Linked DNA regions of Homo sapiens: region 2 is linked to region 1. The links come from fine-mapping of genetic effects on gene expression. Tissue or cell type: esophagus muscle. Region 1 holds a variant in brackets; the other region holds the start of a gene. All regions are shown on one strand. Distances are between the middles of the regions.

Evidence for each region. PIP is the estimated chance that this variant, and not a neighbour inherited with it, causes the effect. A credible set is the group of variants that fine-mapping cannot tell apart.
Region 2: PPP1R3A starts here. The variant in region 1 is the best candidate, but not a certain one, in a credible set for the expression of PPP1R3A in esophagus muscle (GTEx, PIP 0.82).

What each region holds. Positions count from the first base shown.
Region 1 is chr7:114,074,425-114,077,350 of GRCh38, forward strand. No RefSeq gene overlaps it. Among named protein-coding and RNA genes, the nearest start is that of PPP1R3A, 160 kb to the left of the region's middle. The variant G/A (reference allele first, on the strand shown) is at 1,611.
Region 2 is chr7:113,917,617-113,920,542 of GRCh38, forward strand. PPP1R3A (protein phosphatase 1 regulatory subunit 3A) reads right to left here and starts at 1,393. Exons shown (of 4, transcript NM_002711.4): 1 at 599-1,393. The coding sequence starts at 1,380.

The sequences.
Region 1 (2,926 bases):
CTCTTTGGCTACGGAAATGAAATCGCGCTTTAGCAGAAATTTATCTAATGCACATCATATATTCTTATGACAGGAACTATATTTATGATCATAAAAGCACTAATAATATTCTGTATAATAGTCTTGAAGTAAACTCAACAATGTACTTGCCATTCATAGTTACCCTATGAATATTATCAAAATAACTAAATAATGTGCTCACATTGTATATTCCTGTTATGGAAATTATTTTATATGCCTATTTAACTTTACTAGTTTGTTTAAATCACAAGACAATCTTGCTATTATTAAAATTGATTACATAATCAATATGATCAGGATCCATAAATGGCTTTCTATGGCTTTCCACGACTTAAACTTTTCAAAAAATTATCTAGGCATAAAATTATTTTTTGTTTTTATAATATATTATGAAGACAGAAGCATATTTATTAACAGATTAGGCAACCCATTGTCTTAGTATGTTTATTGTAATTTGAGTTTAAAAATTTATTGATTTGTTAATTTTTGCTAAACTAATTTAGAACTTGCCTTGACATTCTCCATTGAACTACTGTAACTGTGCTATAACCTAATTAGAAAAATCTCAGGAGACAATGATTGTTTCTTATGTTTAAATATGAACTAGGAAAGTAGTCTTTCTCAGTTTATAGATTGTTTTTACTCATTTACCTAAGACAAGACTGACAGTTATCCTGTCAAGGTAATCAAAGCCTAAAATGTTTTTTTCTATATTATTTTTTTGATAGACATATATAGGAAGTTGACAAGTAAAAATGGATTATATAGCAAGCCCAAAACTTGGAATGCATTTTTTCAGAAACAATGTTGTAAATGGTATTCAAATACCCTGCTAGTTAATGAAATGTACTTATCATATGTAGAAACGCTATTTGCTTATATTACAGAATGTGCAATACCACTCTTTTCAGTAAATAAAATAAAAAGTAAAGACTGAAATGTAATTTTATCTTTAATGTTTGTACTACGCTTAAGATAAATCCAGTTTTACTAGAGGATATTGATTGGAGGTAATTCTAAAAGAAACCTGAAATTCTACAACTTAAATATAACTTTTCTTATCATGGTTGCTTTCGCTATCTATTGCTGTGTAACAACTAACCTCAAATTTATCAGCTTTAAATCAACAAATATTTATTAGTTCATAGTTTCAAGGGTCAGGTATCCAGGAATGGCTTACCTGAGTCGTTCTTGCCCAGATTCTCTCTTGAGGTTATTAAGCTGTTAGCCAGGGCTCCAGACATCTCAAGAAGATTCAGCTGGGAAAGAAGGGTCTGCTTCCAAGTTCAGTCACATGGTTGTTGGGAGATCTCAATTCTTCTCTGGCTATTGGCCAGATAGTATAATACTATACTTCCTTACCATAAAAGTCTCTCTAGAGGGCTGCTTAAAACACAGCAGCTTGGCAGATAAAGTGATAGAGAGAGAGATCCAGAGACCTAAATGAAAGCCACCATCTTTCATAACTTAAACTCAGAAGTGCCATACTGTCACCTAGGCCTTATATTATTAGCCACAATAACAGAGCCTGGAACTATTGTGCCTGGAATTGGTGGGTTCTTGGTCTCACTGACGTCAAGAATGAAGCC[G/A]CGGACCCTCGCGGTGAGTGTTACAGTTCTTAAAGGCTGCGTGTCCGGAGTTTGTTCCTTCTGATGTTCAGATGTGTTCGGAGTTTCTTCCTTCTGGTGGGTTCGTGGTCTCCCTGGCTCAGGAGTGAAGCTGCAGACCTTCGCAGTGAGCGTTACAGCTCTTTAGGCGGCGCGTCTGGAGTTGTTCGTTCTTCTCGGTGGGCTCATGGTCTTGCTGGCTTCAGGAGTGAAGCTGCAGACCTTCAGGGTGAGTGTTACAGCTCATAAAGGCAGTGTGGACCCAAAGAGTGAGCAGTAGCAAGATTTATTGTAAAGAGCGAGAGAACAAAGCTTCCACACCGTGGAAGGGGACCCCAGCAAGTTGCCACTGCTGGTTGGGGCAGCCTGCTTTTATTCTCTTATCTGGCCCCACCCACATCCTGCGGATTGGTAGAGCCGAGTGGTCTGTTTTGACAGGGCACTGATCGGTGTGTTTACAATCCCTGAGCTAGACACAAAGGTTCTCCACGTCCCCACCAGATTAGCTAGATACAGAGTGTGGACATAAAGGTTCTCCAAGGCCCCACCAGAGTAGCTAGATACAGAGTGTCGATTGGTGCATTCACAAACCCTGAGCTAGACACAGGGTACTGATTGGTGTGTTTACAAACCTTGAGCTAGATACAGAGTGCCGATTGGTGTATTTACAATCCCTGAGCTAGATATAAAGGTTCTCCAAGGTCCCACCAGACTCAGGAGCCCAGCTGGCTTCTCCCAGTGGATACGGCACCGGGGCTGTAGGTGGAGCTGCCTGCCAGTCCCGCGCCGTGTGCCCGCACTCCTCAGCCCTTGGGTGGTCGATAGGACTGGGCGCCGTGGAGCAGGAAGCGGCGCTCGTCGGGGAGGCTCTGGCCGCACAGGAGCCCACGGAGGGGGTGGGAGGCTCAGGCATGGCGGTCCCGAGCCCTGCCCGCCGGGAAGGCAGCTAAGGCCCGGCGAGAAATCAAGCGCAGCGCCGGTGGGCTGGCACTGCTGGGGGACCCAGTACACCCTCCGCAGCCGCTGACCTGAGTGCTAAGCCCCTCATTGCCCCGGGCCGGCAGGGCCGGCTGGCTGCTCCGAGTGCGGGGCCCGCCAAGCCCAGGCCCACCGGAACTCCAGCTGGCCCGCAAGCGCCGCGCGCAGCCCCGGTTCCCGCTCGCGCCTCTCCCTCCACACCTCCCTGCAAGCTGAGGGAGCCGGCTCCGGCCTTGGCCAGCCCAGAAAGGGGCTCCCACAGGGCAGCCGTGGGCTGAAGGGCTCCTCAAGTGCCCCCAAAGTGGGAGCCCAGGCAGAGG
Region 2 (2,926 bases), 160 kb before region 1:
TTTTGTGTGTAACTCATATATCACTGATATACTTATGTCTTTCTGTTAATCATTAAGGTCATTTCTTTTATAATTTAAATTAACATGTATCACTTCAAACATCCCTGTATAACTCAAAACAGTTATGAAGAAGTTCTTTGCAGCTTTTGGGAGAAGTTTACAAATTTCTGAGAACTAGATACATATTGAAATATAGTTTTATGTTAATCAAAACTGTTTCAAAGGAAAGCATAGACATTTAAAAACGACTGAAAATAAAAGTACTTTAAATGTCAAAGTAAATAATTTTATATGTGAATAATCTAGATTTCATGGTTTGAGCAGGAATAATTTATAACTCATTAGGCAAGTAATATACACAGTGCACTTCTCTCCCAACCTATTGCATTACAGCCATATTTTTTCTCACATTTGTAGAAAGGGTTACACAGTGCTATTATTTGAATAGCTTTGACCTTGTTAAAGCCTGGCACCATTGTTTTTTACATAGCAAGCAGTATATTTTTAAATAGAGTCACTTTCTTACAACACATGAAATAAAGAATGACATAAAAACTTTAAGATTGTGAATAATAAAATATGTAAGATATATCCTCACCTTGATTTTACCTTTAAGCAGCCTTTTATTTGTCTGTTAGGAACTTCTTTCCATGGTTTTACAGGCTCCGGCTCTTGTTCTTTCTTTTGACAAATGAATGTATAATTTGTGCCATTATTATTTGACCAAAATGTACCAACAGAAGTTTCATAACGTATACAAAACTCAACTTTACTGCCATCTTTTTGATAAGGAGGAACCAATACAATCTTAAAGGAGAACTGGTCAGTTTCACCATCACATGAATTAGGAACATATTCTGCTAAAATGTCATAATGTGTCTGCCAGTCATCTAAAGACATTCTTACATATACTAACTTCTCAAAAGAAACATTCAAAACTCGAATAATACCCTTGATACTTGTAGACCCAAGAAGAGACTCAGTTGACTCCAGTATTGCTTTCTGTATTTGGAGTTGTTGCATAAGATCTTCTTTTGAAGAAGGCAAGTCAAACAGTGGGGCTAAAACATATTCTTCTGTGTGGAAAATGTCCGTCCCTAAGTCAAAAGTGGTTGAAGCACTCGGTAATTCCCAGCAATCAAATTCTTTAACAGACACAAGATTGAATCCAAAGGAATCAGCAAATGAAACTCTTCTAGTACCTGAAGATGGGGTATCCAGGTATATGTCTTCAGAAGAATCAGAACCTCGTCTACTTGGTTGAGGGGAGAAACCAGGTTGGAAAGTAACTTCTTCATCTTCACAAAGAGAGTCAGATAAATTAGGAACTTCTAAAAAATTATCTTTGCTAATCTGACTAGGTACTTCAGAAGGCTCCATTGGGCTCTCTGATATCAAATAAGAGAGAACTGTACGACTAGTAGAGGCTGACATTTGAGATACTGAGGCTTAAAATAGGTATAATGTTACAGTTGACATTGCAAAAAGAACTCAGCTCTATAAATAGGTCCAATGGCGTGTCAACTATGCTAGCCTGCAACCCTGCTAGCCTCCCCCTAAAGGCCTTGCATATGATAGCATCCATGCTACTCCCACCAGTATGTTTCAGATTTAACTGGCAGTTTTTAAAGCTGTATTTGTTTATGAGCTAAGTTCCAAACAGATATTTTTAAATCATGTTCTGCTGTATTGGAAATCCTGGAACTTTAGGATAAAAATATTATTTTAATTAGTTGATGTTAAAAATGAAAATGTGGATTTTTTTTAAATAAAATAAAAGTAGTATCACAATACTGAATATGTAGTTTGGACTAAATTAATCCATGGAGCAGGTAAGTGCAAACAGGGAAAGATAAGAACATTTATAGAACTGAAGAGATCCAGAGCCTACTAATAATGACAGCTATCATTTTCAGGGATTTATAAATGTATAGCTTTATTACAAAAGGGTTAAATAGAGGTGCTGAAAGTTCTGAGGAAGGAAACATGATTCAGATGGGGAAGGTATCATTTTAAATAAAGCATGAAGGGTAGGTGGAATTTAGACATGCAAGGTTGGAGCAAGGCAGATTGTCCAGGTAGAAGAAATAACCCAAGCAAAAGCCTAGAACAAAGAAGTAATCAAATTCATTATTTTAAACATTAGTACATTTATTTTAATTAAGCCATGGGAAAATACAGATAAGACATGTTATTGATTTACAAATATAAGTGGGCAAAGGTAAGCCTGATCCAGGACTAATACATCTACGTAGAATAAAATGTTCTTTTGCAAATGGCCATTTTATGCCCACAAAGCAGAAGTTGATACCATCACACCTTGAAATTCAATATGAGTTTTAAAGTATGAACAGCCTGCTTAAACTGTCACGTTTTTTTTATGTCATAAAACCCAAGTTGGGGGATGGTCATTTTGGTAAAAACCTATAAAAATTTAACTGCACACAATTTGACCGAGAAATGCCCCAGCTAGAAATTTGCTCTGTCAGTATGGGAAAGTATACAAAGATAAATAGAGATCTATGTTCATAACAGAATTGTGCGTTTAACAGTCTCTACAAACCTGTTAAATGTCCCTCTCGAAAGAGCATTGGATAAATAACCCATACAATAGAATGTTTTAGAAGGATAAAGTAGCACTTTATGTGCTAATATGGAAAGATAACCAAGATAAATGGCTAAGTGATAAAAAAGAAAATGTGTACAGATATGTACATAGAAAACTCCTGAAAGGATACAAAAGACAATGTTAGCAGTATTTACTTCTAACCACAGAATTTAAAGATGGCAGAGGAATGGGGGCTCTATTCATTTTACTTTATGGTCTGCTGTACTGTTTGAAATATTATACATGAGCATGGTTTTCTTTCAAAATATCTATTAATTAAACTGAAAAAATATACGAAGTGTGAAAGGTGATTAGTTT